Linked DNA regions of Homo sapiens: region 2 is linked to region 1. The links come from fine-mapping of genetic effects on gene expression. A gene starts in region 1. The other region holds a variant in brackets. All regions are shown on one strand. Distances are between the middles of the regions. Region 1 holds the start of ARMC8 (armadillo repeat containing 8). Region 2 overlaps ARMC8 (armadillo repeat containing 8).

Region 1 (8,336 bases):
AAGTGCTGAGATTACAGGTGTGAGCTACTGCACCCAGCCTGATTTTCTAATTCTATCATTTCTTCTACATTTGTAAGTTGGAATTCTACCATAGCAGTAATTCAATTTTTAAATGAGTATTTTCTTTTTTACTGTGGTTTCTAATTTTAAAACTTTGTAAACATCTCACTACTTCTATTTTAGCCATACACATATTTCTTTTATTTTCTTTTTAGTTTTTATTCTGAGACATGGTTTCACTCTGTCACCCAGGCTGGAGTGCAGTGCCACCATTTCAGCTCACTGCAACCCCTGCCTTCTGGGCTCAAGCCATCCTCCCACCTTGGCCTCCCAAGCAGCTGGGACCACAAGCTCAAGGCACCATGCCTGGCTAATTCTTGCTTTGGTTTTTTTTTTTTGGTAGCAAAGGGATTTTGCCATGTTGCCCAGGCTGGTCTTGAACTCCTGAGCTCAGCTCAAGTCAGCCCATCTCCGCCTCCCAAAGTGCTGGGACTACAGACATGAGCCACTGCGCCTGGCCAGGCATATACATTTCACACCCTCTGTGGACCTGATGAATTATTGATGCATTATTTCCCACCGCAAAAGCCCTTGTGGACTTTCCTTTATAGGTTGGTTGCTTAGATGAACATTCGGTAGTCTCATCTGGGAAAGTCCTATTAAGTCCCAGAGGACTGTAGGAGCTCTGGAAAGAACTTTGGAACCAGAGAAACCTGTACCAAAATTGATTCAGCCTCTTACTCCCCAAGCAACCTTAAGCAAATTATTGAACCTCTCACAGTCTCATTGTTTTTTTTTTGTTTTTTGTTTGAGACAGTGTCTTGCTCTGTCACCCAGGCTGGAGTGCAGTGGTGCGATCTCAGCTTACTGCAACTTCCACTCCCAGGTTCAAGCAGTTCTCCTGTTTCAGCCTCCCGAGTAGCTGGGATTGCAGGCAGGTGCCACCACGCCTAGTTAATTTTTCTATTTTTAGTATCGACGGGGTTTCACCATATTGGTCAGGCTTGTCTCAAATGCCTGACCTCAGGTAATCCACCCACCTCGGCCTCCCAAAGTGCTGGGATTACCGGCGTGAGCCACTGCGCCCAGCCTCACAGTCTCACTTTTATTCCTGTCTGCTGAGGGAAAGAACCATGTCTTTGTTCCACTTCAAAACTCTAGTTCAGTGCATTCACAAGAAAACCTGTAGTTAGTGTCTGTTGAACTGCATTGTATCTCCTCTATACTGTTGTTAGTCCATTTTCTTTTTTATTTAAAGTATTTCATCTGTTTTCCTTTTTTTTTTTTTTTTTTTTTTTGAGACCGAGTTTCGCACTTGTTGCCCAGGCTGGAGTGCAATGGCGCGATCTTGGCTCACCACAACCTCCGCCTCCCGGGTTCAGGCGATTCTCCTGCCTCAGCCTCCCGAGTAGCTGGGATTACAGGCATCCGCCACCATGCCCAGCTAATTTTTTTGTATTTTTAGTAGAGACGGGATTTCTCCATGTTGGTCAGGCTGGTCTCGAACTCCCGGCCTCAGGTGATCCACCCACCTCGGCCTCCCAAAGTGCTGGGATTACAGGTGTGAGCCACCGTGCCCAGCCCGTTTTCAAGTCTTTTTAAAGATTCTTCTAAATTTCTTTTGGGACCATTCAGGTTTTGGATTATACCTATCTCCCCACACTTTAAACTTTCCTATTTTTGTATAGATACATTTCTCTCTGGCTTTGTTTCTCATCTTAGGCAGTTCCACAAAGATATTTATAAAGATTTTTCAGATTTTTTTCTGGCTACTTCTTGTTTTGCATTTCATTTTTTTTCTTCATTAAACTCACACTTTGTTGTCTTTTTTTTTTTTTTTACAGAAATTAATACTGCTCTAAGAGCCATGGAACGACAGGGAGAAGTTTCATTTCTGTTTGCAGAGTAGTCAGCATGGATATTTTCCTCTCCTCACCACAGTGCCAAATTTAACTGTTTTTGTTTTTTTCTGCAACCTCCACTTCCCGGGTTCAAGCAATTCTCCTGTCTCGGCCTCCCGAGTAGCTGGAACTACAAGTGCATGCCACTATGCAAGGCTAATTTTTGTATTTTTAGTAGAGATGGGGTTTCGCCATATTGGGCAGGCTGGTCTTGAACTCCTGAACTCAGGTGATCCATCAGCCTCAGCCTCCCAAAGTGTTGTGATTACAGGTGTGAGCCACCGCGCCCATGCTTAACTGTTTTGTTATCGTCACATGCAGGCTGAATCAAAAATTCCTTTTATCTTCCAATTTCTACTCATTACTTAAGAGTGTACCTAAAGTTATTTATCAGCAAAATTTGAACTGGGAGCAAGATTCCTGATCTCCAAGCTTAGGAGTTGGCTATTCAATGCTTTCTTCCTGTAAAATGTCTATGTCAGTCTTCTGGATATAAAACAGGAAAGCCTGGGTAACAGACAGAGGTGTGAGATGTCTTGAGTCACATTTCTAGCTCCTCCCCGCTCGGATTTCAGCCACAGCAGCAGTGACAGTTCTGTGCAAGCTCAGATTTATGCTGCCTATATCCCACCCTAAGATGAAACCTGCAGACTCTGCTTTTTTGTATCAGGTTAAAGAAGCCCGTTCTGTTCTGGGCACAAATATAATCCAGGAGGGCAGGGAGTTAATAGCCCTAGGGAAATCCTCAACCAATACATATGGTATTGGTGGATGAATGCTGTAGCTTCAAGATGGACAATCCAGAGAGGTATTCTGTATGTTTTCAGAGGTGATTGAGGAATAAACAGTGGCATCAATAATGGACAATTATCTTGAATATTTATTCTTTCTTTTTTCACTCTCCCTGACCTATCAATTTTGTTCCCTGAAAGCACTTACTAAATAAACAAAATGCACCCAAATCTTCGTCCCAGGCTCAAACTAAGCCAAAAATTCGTACAACAAACATTTACTAAGTGACTGTGCTAGGCACTGAGATAGACAACCTAGAAGATAAAACTCCCAGTGCCTGTCTTGAAGTGTATAGTGAGACAAACACGGAAACAATTAACAACAACAAAACCACCCTACAATTAAAGTGAAGTATGAAGGCATGGGGGAAAGGGTATCTAACCCATGCCTGGGGGAGACAATTCCTGGAGGATGTATTGCTTGAGCTAATGGATGGAGTGTGGATCAAATACAGTTATAATGACTCTATATACTATGTATTAGGGTTATGTTCTGCCCCATTGCAGTATGCAGTACATGATGTGATTTTAGGTGGTCCATGGATGGACATTTAAACTTTTTGTAGTTAATGTGTACTAGAATAAAAATAAGGAGCACAACAAACTTGATTTCACAGAGTATTATGGTTTAGGATAAAGCCAAAAATTTTTAATGAGTTGAAATTGGCTTTAAATAAAAATATTGAATGAATAATAATACCTAGGTGCAGATTGGCAAAGATTGTGTAGGTGGTGTACAGATTACCCAAGTTTCAGAAATAGTATTATAGCAGAAGGACTACCTAAAATAAAATTCCTGCCTTCCAGGAATTCAACAGTTTGTTAAGGAACACAGACCCATAAGCAGGGGTGGTAAATGCTACACTAAATTTGGAAACCAAGTACAGGAGGAAGACAGGAAAACAGTGAGGAGCAGAGTGCGGGAGAGGCTACCAGCTACAAGACCAGTTGGAAGGCTATTGCTGTAGTCCAGGGGAGAGGTTACAAGAGCCTGAATTAGGGTGTGGCTATAGAAATGGAAGGAATACAAGTAATGTTAACAGGCCAATTGCAACCATACTGTGAAAACCTTACTGGTTGCAAGCAGTACGAAGGTGAAACTTATCCAACCAAGTCAAGGGCAGTGTTGCACACACACACACACACACACACAAAGTAGTAGGACAGCTGAATTAATCAAGTATAATTGAAAGCATACTTTTATTTAGCTTCGGTTATGAGAGTGTTTTAGTGCGAAATATTTAGATATTTGCCCCCATTTTCCCCACTTAACTCAGAAGCTGGAGAAATGTTAACACATATTGTATAACGCTTTCTATGTTCTAGGTTTTTTCTGAGAGCTTCACGTTTGTTGACTCCTCTATCCTCATTAACCTTTATTTTATAGATGAGGAAACTCAAACAGAAGGTTAGATAACTTGCCCAGGGTAAAGCAGCTGATAAATCAAGTAGCTAGGAAGAAACCCAAGCATTCTGGCTATTCTTAACACTACACCAGAATAAACGGGGCCGGCACACAACGCTAAGGCAAGTCACGTATCTGTATCGGATCGTGAAACAATCACTCTTACGGTTGGCAAAGGTTCTGGGATCGCAATTTCCCCACCTATAAAATGGAGATAACGACGCCGGGAGTTTGGTGCAGAGAGAGAGAATGAATATGAAAGTGAACTTCAAACTATGTATGTGGCTCCACGTACTACTTTTTCCAAATATGAATACTGGAATCCATAAACTGCAATTTATCAGTCCGTAAAACTCGTAGCGTCAGGGCGAGACTCCGCCTCTGGGGCCCCGCCCACCGCGAGCGGCAGGTGGGGCCGGCAGATCTTCTTTGCGCATGCGGAAACCGCTGCCCGCTTCCACCTCTAACCCAGGCTCAGAGTAGCTGCTGTTTCTGAGAGAACGATTCGTAGGACAGCCCCTGACGCCATTCCCTTTTGCCCTTCTTTCTGCGGGCCTTTCCGGTACTTGAGCGGTGTCCAGAGCGTGGCCAGTTCTCGTCTATCTGGCTGCCTTTAGGGAGCGGTGCCTAGCGTTGGCCAATAGTTGGCTGTCGAAAGTGCCGGCCCCCGCGCCGGCGCCTGCAGCAGCCGGGTGGGAAGGCTCAAGATGGCGTGCTTGTTGGAGACCCCAATCCGCATGAGCGTCCTTTCGGTGAGTGACCCGCCGCGGCCGCCCGCCCGCCCTCCAGGAAGCCTCATCCCGGTCTCCACCATTCCCCCAAGCGTGGTGTGCCTCCTGGGCACCACCCCCTGGGGTGGACCCCGGCTCAGTCTCGGGCCAGGGAGTGAGCGAGGGTGGAGAGGCGGGATAGACGGGCAGAGGGGACCGCGGCCGAGCCAAAGACGTTTCCAACTCCGGGAGCTCCCGCCGGTGCGGGTTCCCAGGATGGCGTCTGGCAGGCGGGGTGGCTGGGCTTATAGACAACTGGCTGGGCGGCGCGGCTTGGACTTTGCCAAGCGTTTCACTGAGCCTTCCTTTTAGCGATGCCGCTTCCCGGGGGCCGAACGCTCTGCCTTGTGAAGCGCCGGGCTTGCAGCCGGCCTGAGAACGAGCGCCCACTCAGCTCTCCCGGGCTTTGGCAAGAAGAGGTGCAGGCTCCTTGGCCCCCATTTCCTCAGAGCTGCCAGGCCAAGTCTGTGCGGCTTCTATCGCGTCCCAGCACCTGGGCACCGGCTGAAGCAGTTTGCTTTTTGGCAATGGTGATTCGTATCAGCTGCAACTCTTCCTAGTGTGTGTGGTTTTTTAAGCCCCTTTCCTCCGCTCTGCTCAGAGGTCGCGGCTCTGAGTCAGAGGAACTCTATGTTCCCTGTGCCTGGTATTCCGTTTTTCTTTAAGGGGAGTCAAACATTGAAGGGGGGAAAAGGGGGTGAGATTTATTTCCCCATTGTTGAAAGAAGGGAACGTATTGACATGCCAGGAAGTAAAACCTGTTTTTTTTTTTTTTAAAAAAAGTTTTTTTAAAGAAAAAGACGACTTTCACCTTTCACTATGTTGCTCTTGAACCAGGACCAGGAATGAAAGTTACTGGGAGATAACTTCGAAGGATTTTGCAACAAATTCGAGCTGTCCGACTCTGAGAATGGTCAGTTTACCAATGGTTCATTTGCTATTGTTGGAAACAAGCAGGCAAATACTGATTGACCATCTTTTAGACTTGTGGAAGCCAGTCTGATACTGAGAGGGTAGTTGGATTATAAATGACTTGTCGGGTTCCTAGAGTCTTGTAACTACAACCGGTTTCTTTTCTCTTCTCTGACTTGTCCCACAAACAAACTCACCTATCTGAAAACACCTAGGACATTTGCTTATGATTCAGGGTTAGAGCAGTGTGGCAGACCTCAACCTTGAAAAGGCTTAAGTTGTCAATACAATAATAATTTTGTGAGGCTGTCAACAGATTTTTCCCCTGATCCATTTTAGCAGTCATTTTTTCTTATTTTTAAACTGCAACTAAGGAAATACTGTTTACCTAAGTATTAGATCAGATTAGCCTGTTACTCCATCACTGACTGTAATACCCAGGAATATTCTGTGGGAGTGCAGGCCAATGACTTTTACCTCATTATGTTAAAAAAAAATAGTATGTGTCTTGGCTGTTCTCAGTTCTCCTTTAATTATTCATTTAGATTTCATTTATCCTTCAGTTCACCTGAAGTTTACTTTTTGGATGTTGTCAACTTGTATAATGCATATGATTGAAAGTTTTCATTTGTTTCACTTCCTTGGTAAATAATATTTTCTGCTTATTTTATTCAAAAACTTCTTGAAGAGTATTTTCTATTAATACTTCTATTTAGGATTTGCCTTTAGCCCTAGTCTCATTAGGGGCTTTTTTTTTTCTTTAATTAAAAAAAAAGGATTTCCGTAGTCCCAAAGTCTGGTCTATCAGATCTTCACTCCTAGAGCCTTGGGGAAGTAGGAGCTTTTGGATAAATGATTTAAAATGTTTCAATTCACTGATTTTACTAATTTAAAGTGAAACCTGTACCTTTCAAAGTACTACCCAGAGCACCATGTTTTGAAATGCAAACTAGAACAGGAAACATTCATCAGAAATTATCTTGAATGGTTGATTCCTTTAATAAGCTACAATGTACCAGTTACGTACAAGCTCTGTATTGTATACGTTAGAGAATGCAAGGATGAGATCAGAAATGCGTTTCAGGAGCTCATAGTCTGGGTGACGCTATAATTTGATAAACATAATTTCAGCAAGGAGGCATTCAAGTTGTTTTAAAGGATTTCCATTTGAGTCTCTTTATACCTTCTCCTTGGGAAATCTCATTGATTTTCCTGTACCCTTAACTGATCAGTTCACACATCTGCATTGCCAACCTTGACTTTCTTCTACATCTAGTCTTACATCTTAAATTGTGTGGATGACACCCATCGCTTCCAATAAAGCACATTCCTTCTCCTAAGGGGAATTAGTTATGAGTTCCCAATTTCTGTTAATGGTGTTATCTTTCACTGATAAGTAACTGTTAAACCTCCTGAATAATCTCTGATTCTTCCTCCTTTCATCCCCCTGTATCTACCAGTTGTTAAGCTCTGTTGCTTCTTTATTCTTAGTGTTTCTTATATCTTTCTCTTCCCATGACCACCCTCATTCAGGACTTTGTTGTTTTGTGCCTGCACTACCACAGCGTCCTTTTAATTATTTTTACTGTCTTTAATGTCTTACACTCTCAGTGCAAGTCCATGTCTACTTAAATTTTCCTAAAGAACTCTTCCTACAGCCGCTCCTCGGTTTCTTTTCTTGATTGAATTTGTTTTGCCCAAAGGCCCAAGTTTATATTCAGCTTCAGAGTTGAGATTCTTTATTTTCTTATCTTTTTTTTTTTTTTTTTTTTTTGAGATGGAGTTTTGCTCTTGTTGCCCAGACTGGAGTGCAGTGGCGCAATCTCGACTCACTGCAACCACCGCCTCCGGGGTTCAAGCGATTCTCCTGCCTCAGTCTCCTGAGTAGCTGGGATTACAGGCATCCACTACCATGCCTGGCTAATTTTTTTGTATTTTTAGTAGAGACAGAGTCTCACCATGTTGGCCAGGCTGGTCTCAAACTCCTGACCTCAAGTGATCCACCCACCTTGGCCTCCCAAAGTGCTGGGATTACAGGTGTGAGCCACTGCACCCGGCCGAGATTCTTTATCTTCTACATGAACCTGCTATCCTGTATAAACCGGCTTTCTCAGGTTAGAGTGATACAGAATTCTTCCAAACTCCAGTAAATCTTATTCTTCTTACTCATTTGTACATATGAATTTTAACTTTGTATATATATATTCTGTACATCTACTTTGAGCTTCTGCCATTTGCTAGGCAAGCATGGTGTTGAGTTTGGGAATACAGCCGTAAGCTACACAGACCTCTGTCCTTTTGGAAATGTTAGCCTAGTGGGAAAAATAGATATCAAATAATCACACAGTTTGTGAATGGTGATTAGTATTATGAATGAAGTATATAGGGTGCTGTTCAAAACATGTCATAGAGGAAACTGATCTAATATGGAGGGCAATAGGAAGAACTAGGGAAGGTTTCCCTGAAGAAGTGATGCTGAGCTGAAAGTTCAAGGATAAGTAAGAACTAACTAGAAAAAGTGACAGAAGAAGAGCATACAAGGCAAAGGGAACTGCTT
Region 2 (8,336 bases), 100 kb after region 1:
CATTAGACCAGCCTGGACTAAGTTGCTTCATACATTTTACTTCTTTTCTCTTCCCCTAACAGGGTTCAAAAAAGTTAAAAGGTCCTAAGTGCACATGGCTGGTGTAGCTGGTGGACAGGGTCTAGGCCTTCACCCAGAAGGTCATGAGCTTAGGAGCAAGCAGCAGGTGGAGGCCTAGGAAAGGGAGGCTTCCCTGGGAGGGGAGTTGCAACACCTACAGAGCTTCCACCAAAGAGACTACATTGTTGAAGGAACATTGTGGTTTGTCACAAGAGCTTCTCTTAGAAATGAGATTTTCAAGAAAAATAATAAGTTACATTTTCTCTTTGATTTGATAGTATGACCTATACAAAATAGCTGCCTTTGACCAGCTATGGCTTCCCATAGCTCAGGAAGAAACCACCAAAGTGTTGGGGTTCTCTTTTGCCTAAGGTAGATTTTGTTTGGGTGTGGTTACTGTTACTAGCAATGATGTCAGCAGATGAGAAATCAGGGCATTGAGAGTGGAACCTGTGAGAATCCATGTACCTTCAAGTGAAAAATTGCCCAAGCTCTTGAGACAGCTTGACTCTGGGACTTCAGAGCTTTCCTGACTGTTGGCCCTTTGTTCTTTTCCAGACACTGTGCATCTTAGCCAACATAGCGGATGGGACAACAGCAAAAGATCTTATTATGACCAATGATGATATCCTACAGAAAATCAAGTATTACATGGTGAGCCCTTGTCCCCTTTCACCGTAGGATTAGAATGCAGGGACTGTTGCATTTTTAACTCAAAATAAATTGTGCAGAGATTTTAAAAAGAGGAAAAGAATAGATTACTCTGTGACTCCTCAGATTCAAAGAACTCTCTTCCATCCTGAAGAAAAAGAAAAAAACACCAACTCCTTGAAGCTTGTACCACTTGGTAATATTATTACCTGCCAGTCGACTCCCTGCCCTTGTCATCTACTGGTTGCCTCCCTCTTACTGAGTGAAGACCCGGGCTCTTGGCTTTCTCTCAGTGGCCTCCAGTCCCTGTCTTCTGTCTCAAGGCTTCAGTCCCATGGTGGATGAACCCTCTAGCCCCCTGGCACCATAGTTCCTTTACCTGTTTGCTTCTAAACAATCTGCTACCTACTGCCATGGCCATATCCTGCATCTGATCATCACCAGAGACTGCCCATTGCCAAAATGTGGGTATCAAAAAGCCCTCCACTTCTCATTCTGTCAACATCTCCTGACAAAATTCTAATCATGGAGGAAGCCTCCCCTTGTCACACCTATCTGTCTTCTCTATCCCTGCCATGTCAGAGTTAACAACTGCAGAGAAAGGCACAGAACCCCACATGGGCACAGCTCCTCCTAGTGTCCTTCAGTGATTCTCTAGGAAGCTGGCACCCTCATTCTCCATGAGAATATATTCTTACCTGCCCCTCATTCTTTAGACCTCACCTCTTCCCTCCCCCATTACAGTTAGTGATGACCTCAGCTTTTTGTCTTATTAAGAGAAGAGAAACTAAAATCCTTCAGTGGCTCCTTGTTATACCTTGAATAAAGTTCGTATGCCTTTATGATGGCCTGTCAAGTCCTACGTGACCTAACCCATTCATATCCCCAACTTATCTTATTCCTCTCTTCCTTTGTTCACTACACTGGCCACTTGAAGTTTCTCAAAAAGGCCACGTTCTTTCCTTCCTTGGGACCTTCACACATACTGGCTTCTCTGCCTGGAACACTTTTCTTCTCTCTGTTTCACCCTTCAAATCTCAGCTGAACTTATACTTTCTTACTGGACTCTTGCCCTTATAGATTATTCCTCATTACTGCATTTTGTTCACTTCCTTCAGAGCACTTAGCTCAGTTTTAGTGATATATGTTTGTGTGCCTACTGGGTGTCTTTACCACAGCGTAAGTTCCATGAGGGCAGGGACCATGTCAGCTTTGTGCACAACTGTATATCCACCATGGTGTCTGGCCCTTAGCATATGCTTGGTAAATATTTGTTGAATGAAAACCTTACCACTTCAACCAGGGATTCCCTTATCTTTCCAATACTAATCCACACTGTATCCATAATCACTTAAAAAGTTTTCCTTAACTTCTCATACCCATCGAGACATACCCATTTCTCTGTTATTCAAAGACAAAGCCAAACTTCTTTTTATTTTGAGACAGGGTCTCACTCTGTCACCCAGACTAGAGTGCAGTGACGCGATCTTGGCTCACCACAACTTCCACCTGTAGGTTCAAGCGATTCTCCTGCCTCAGCCTCCTGAGTAGCTGGGATTACAGGCGCGGCACTATTGCCCGGCTAATTTTTGTATTTTTAGAAGAGATGGGGTTTCACCATGTTGGCCAGGCTGGTCTCAAACTCCTGATCTCAAATGATCCACCTGTCTCGGCCTCCCAAAGTGCTGGGATTACAGGCATGAGCCACTGCGCCCAACCTTCAAAGCCAGACTTCTTAAAAGCATCTTTTCTGTACATACGGCCTCCTCCTCTGCCTCTAAAGTCATTTTTTAACCTCCTCTGTTTCACCTCTACCCCCATCATTCAACTGAAACTTAGGGCCACCAATGACTTCCATGATGCCAAATCCAAAGGATCCTTTTCTCTTTTCATCTTACCCCACTTACAGCAGACTTCAACCCAGCTGACTATTTCCTCCTCCTGGAAATATCCTTTTCTCTTGGCTTGCGTGACACCATACCTCCCTACCTATCTCTGGACCCTTTTCTCTTCTCTTCTACACGTGCTCTCCTGAGATCAGCAGATCACAACCTTCATTGTACAATAGGACCTCGTAGGGAGCTTTCAAAGATTACTGCTTTGTCTCCTCCCTCCCAAGATTCTTATTTAATAGATCTAGGGTTATAGCCTGGGCATCAGGATTTTTTTTTAAGATCACTGGGTGGTTCTTACGTACAGACAGAGTTGAGAACCATTGCCTTAGGAGAATCTCATCCACCCCCATAGCTTATACTATCATCACTGTGCTGACAATACACTGTAATTTCCAAATGTGTTTCCCAGCCTAGACCTCTCTTCCAAACTCTGGACTTACATATCCGCCTGCCCTTTCAGCATCTCCATGTGGCTGTCTGATAGCATCTTGGAATCTATCTTGATTTCTCCAGCTCTGTCCCCTCATTCACTCAATTTATCAACAAGTCCTATCTGCCCTTCTTCCAAAACTGATCTTGAATCCAATTACTCCTTTTCATCACCACTGCCCCCACCCTAGTCAGTCCAAGTCACAGCACCTTATGCCTGATTAACTATATAACAGTATCTTCCTTGACACTTCCTCACTGTCACTCCAATCCCTTCAGCCCAACTGGTCTTCTAAAAATGTAAATCAGATCTTGTCCCTCCACTGTTTAAATCTTTCAGGGGCTTCCTCTCAACACAGAATGAAATCCAGAGTCCTTACTGTGGCCTACAAGTTGGCACAATTTGGCTACACCTACTTCTCTGAACAGACAGCTCCTTCTTACTTCAGACCTTTTCAGGAACTTTTTCTCCTGCTTGGAATTTCAAGCCCCTTGCTCTTTGCACATCTGGCACCTTCCTATTCTTTAAGTCTCTGTTTAAGTATTGCCACCCTCAAAGAGATCTGTTTTGTGCATTCCACCTAAATTAAGTTCCCACCCCTCCACCCTCCAATTTTCTCTATCCTCATAGTAATTTGTGTCCTTAAAAAATATTGAATGATGAATAAACTTATGCATAGTAAATGCATATTTGTTATAGTATATACAAGCTCATTTATTCAACAAATATTGATTGATTGTCTGAGGCTGGGAGCAGATAAGTTTTATTCTGTTTTGTCTTAAGGGAGCCCAAACTGGACATCTCCTTAAAAGTGTTGGCAGTTAGAAGAAGAAAGAATCACTAGCCATAGAATTCTACTGGAGGAAGCCACATCCATTTCTTTGTCTCTGCTTAGTTGAAATATAGTCCTACATGAGAAGATAAGTCTGTCTTAGCCTTGAAAAAACCATTGAGCATATTTTGCCATTGATACTCTCTCAGATGTGCATAAATTATTTGAACATACTAGAAATTTTTTTTATTGACCAATAGGACAATCATCTATAAAGTTTATTTTATTATTGAGTCCTTTTTCATTCAGGCGAAAACACCCTATCCAAAGCAACCAGAAATGGTTGTACTTTCAGTACATAAAGCAAAATAAATAAGAATTGTATTTAGAAGAATAGGAGGCTCATTAGTGATAGTAAAGACATTTGAGAAATCAACTAGCGATTTCATCAAGTTTTTGGGGATATTCCTTTAGAAATAGGAGTAATTTAATTATTCCAGAAGCTGAATGTATTATATAATGCTTCTTGTTTTCAGCAAGTTGTGTCAGAGGAGTAAGCCATTTATAGATTGTGT[G/A]TGTGTGAAAGTCTAGGTGTTACAGAACTTCATGACCATATATTCACTTTCTTCCCCAAAGGAATTATTGGGCCATTTGAATAAGATAACCAGTAGCTTAAGAGATAAATACCAAATGCACATCCACCCAGTGTATGTTGGCTGTTGGTGACCTGGAAACATAGCCTAAGTCGAAAGCATAGAATTGTCATATGACAGTGTTTCCTCGTGCATGGATTGAATCATAAATTGCAAACTGTACCCATAGCCCTAGAGGTGTTTTGTTTGTCCAGCCAGATGGTTTTTTAAATTTGAATTTGCATGTCTTTTGGCAAGGCTTGTACTCCTCAATTTGCCAGATTCTCCACTGTCCCTTGTTATCTTTAGCCCAACCCTTCTACTCATTAGTGTTAACTTCATGGCCCCTCAAGACATTTGAGTTTGAGGACTCTTCTTCAGACTTTTTTTTTTTTTTTTTTTTTGAGACGGAGTCTCGCTCTGTCACCCAGGCTGAGTGCAATGGCACGATCTCAGCTCACTGCAACCTCTGCCTCCCAGGTTCAGGCGATTCTCCTGCCTCAGCCTCCCTAGTAGCTGAGATTACAGGCGCCCGCCACTACACCCGGCAAATTTTTGTATTTTTAGTAGAGACAGGGTTTCACTGTGTTAATCATCCTAGTCTCGAACACCTGACCTCGATCTTCCACCTGCCTTGGTCTCCCAAAGTGCTGGGATTACAGGCATGAGCCACCTCACCTGGCCCTGCTTCAGACTTTTAGGTTATAGGAATTGGCTATGGTAGGTCCCCCCAAAAAAAAATCTAAAATGAGATTACCACCATTTTGATTTTTTTTTCTTTTTCTGTATTAATAGGGCCATTCACATGTTAAACTGCAGCTTGCAGCCATGTTTTGTATATCAAACCTCATATGGAATGAAGAGGAAGGTAAGAGATTGGTGAGATTTGTTTTGAAAAAAATTATGGGAAGAGTGTCTTGCACAGGGAAGCTAGCAGGTGCCCCTGAGATCCTGGGCAGAGGCTCTGTTCTTGGACCATCTGGCCCAAGCACCCTCTAGAGTTGCCCTGGTATGAGAATCAGTGGAACTAGCCCAAGTCAGCTGGTCAGTCAACACTGAGTGCCCCGTTGGAGCCAACTCTATACCAGATTCAAGGAGGGAGAGTGAGAAGTAAGTGACAGTCCCTGCCAGGAGAGAGCTGATGAGGAGGATGGTGAGATGCACTTGAAGAAGGTGAGAGGAGAGAGTGGGTGGGAGGATGAGCCTTTCGTTTTGAGCAGAGGAAGCACATATGAGGACTACAGGCAGATAAGCATGATGGAGAAGAAGGTGCATTTGTGAGAAATGAGAAGTGCAATGTGACCAGTGAAGCAGCTAGTCTGTAAGGAGGCCTGTATAGATCAGAGGTTCTTTACTTTGGCTGCATATTAGAATCACCTGGGAATTTTTACACCAGGCCAATTAAATCAGAATCTCTCGGGGTGGGCTCCAGGCATAAGTGGTTCTTAAAGCTCCCCAGATGATTCCAATATATAGCCAAGGTAGCAAATACAGGAGAGCAGTGGGTCTCAAGGCTGGGTTGGCTGCATTAGAATCACCTGGGGAAGTTTTTAAAGTGCAGATTTCTGGGCCCCATCCCTAGAAATTCTGATTCACTGAGTCTAGAGAGAGCCAGTATATGAGTGGTCACTGTGGGCTCTTCAGTGGGGAAGACTCCAGGGGATTACTCAGCAGCAGCGCCCAAAACAAAGTGCAAGAAGGGAAACTGGATTCCGCCCACAGACCTAGATACCACGTACCACTTGTGTACTGGGGAGACAAAGCCACCCTCAAGGAGATGTTAGTCTAGTTGGAAGATAGAACAGAATGATATGAAATTGGAAGTGCCAGCTGTGCTGAGAGGCAACAAAAAGTGCTGGGAGGACAGAGGAGGGTAGAAGACAATAGAAAGGGGAAGATAAGACCTGCTTAGAGTAGTAAGAGCCTGGCCTGGTCTGGCCAGGGCCATGGGTATGTCCTGAAAGAAGTGGTGAAGCTGGGAGTCAGTGGCAGAGGGCCTTGTACCAGGCTGAAGAATCTCACCTTGACCCTGTAGTCCATGGAGAAATCAGTCCAACTGCAGAACCCAGGATAGACTGCAGGCAGGATGATCAGGAGGCAGAGAGACGAGTTAGAAGACTGTCAGAGAGTCCAAGCATGAGCGGGTCCAACTACATTGGGAGAGGGTAGAGGACAAGGGGTACAGGAGGAGTAGGGAGTGAAGGACACTGGTAAGGCTCTAGATTGTTAATTGTACATCAAAGAGAGCATTTGCCTGGGTCATGTTCCCAGTAACCTGGCTTTAATCGTTTAGGTTCACAAGAACGCCAGGATAAATTACGAGACATGGGCATCGTAGATATTCTACACAAACTGAGTCAGTCACCAGATTCAAACCTTTGTGACAAGTGAGTATGAATGTGAAAAGGCCTTGCTTTGGGCTGTGTTGGATTCTTTCGTGAAAGGGTTTGAATTGCTTGGTAATTAATGGCCATACTTTTTAAAATCTTTTAGATTCTTAGATTTTCTTCATAATTTTCTATGAGCCACTGTACGACATTTGAGTGAGCTGTAAACTAATAATTACCAAATTATTAAAGACTCTCATCTTATTGTGAATTCACGTGAGTCTGGGCCATCTTAGTGGATTGGATCCAGAGGCCATTTGCGTACATTCGCCTGATCATTAGAATAGACATGCATGTGGCATTTTGGAAAGCAGAAAAACCAGTAATGCAAACATTCATTAGCTCAAAACCTCACTGAACACCCGTTTTGTGCCAGGCTGGCCCAGCTCCTGGGGATACAAAAGCTACCACTAAGGAATCACTGTCCTCAAAGAGCTCATCATTTCCTGGTAGAGTCAAGAGTTATAATCAGATACTCAGCTAACCTCAAAATAGCCATAAATGCTCTTCCTAGCTGTGTGTTCTCCCTTGTAACAGCCTTCACTTTCCATTTCACCTTTGTATAATAACAAATCAGGGAACATCAGTACTTTTGAGTCTCTAGACTCTTGAGCATGGCTTAGAAGCCCTTCAGCCCTTAATGGTCTGGCTCTGCCTTTCTCATCTTCTCTGCACCCACCATGTACACCCCATACTGCAGCCATACCTGTCCGCTTACAGTAGCACACCTTCGTGCATTTACACATTCTGTTCCATCTACTTTGCTATCCCAGTCTCCTCTCCTCTGAGTCCCCATTCATTCATCAGATATCTCTTTTGAATACCTGCCTTCTGCCAGGCATTGTTTTAGGCACTGGAGATATAATGGTGAATAAAATTGATGAAGTCTTTGCCCTCGTGTAACTTACATTCTAGTATAGAAGATAGATGATAAGCAAATGAATACGTAACACAGTATCAGGTGATGAGAGGTACCATGAAGAAAAATAAAGCAAGGTGAAGGAATGGAGAATCAAGAAAATTTATTTTAGGTTAGCTAGTAAAGATCTCTCTGAGGATGACATGATCAGAGACCTGAATGAAATAAGGAAGATTTCATCTGGGCAAATGCATAGAGGAAGAGTATTACAGACAGGGGTGATAGTGGGTTCAAAGGCCCTGAAGCAGGAGTGAACTTGGTATGTTCAAGAAACAGCAAGAAGAACAGAGGGCTAATGAAAAATATGGAGAGGGAGAATGCTAATAGGTGGAAGAATCCAGACCATGAAGAGCCTTGTAGGTAAGGTAAGGACTTTGGCTTTTATTCAGAGTTTAATAGGAAATCATTGGAGACTGTTAAGGAGAGGAGACATTATCTGATTTGAATTCCTTTTTTCCTTTTCCTTTTTCTTTTTTTCTTTCTTTTCTTTTCTTTCGAGATGGAGTTTCACTCTTGTTGCCCAGGCTGGAGTGCAATGGCGTGATCTTGGCTCACTGAAACCTCTGCCTCCTGAGTTCAAGTGATTCTCC

Evidence for each region.
Region 2: its variant is fine-mapped to the expression of ARMC8 in whole blood (INTERVAL, PIP 0.95).

The regions. Positions count from the first base shown.
Region 1 is chr3:138,182,751-138,191,086 of GRCh38, forward strand. It overlaps ARMC8 (armadillo repeat containing 8), which reads left to right and starts at 4,551. Exons shown (of 22, transcript NM_001363941.2): 1 at 4,551-4,849. The coding sequence starts at 4,805.
Region 2 is chr3:138,283,813-138,292,148 of GRCh38, forward strand. It overlaps ARMC8 (armadillo repeat containing 8), which reads left to right. Exons shown (of 22, transcript NM_001363941.2): 19 at 619-714; 20 at 5,236-5,308; 21 at 6,734-6,827. It also overlaps a transcript of NME9 not described here. Among named protein-coding and RNA genes, the nearest start is that of NME9, 42 kb to the right of the region's middle. The variant G/A (reference allele first, on the strand shown) is at 4,384.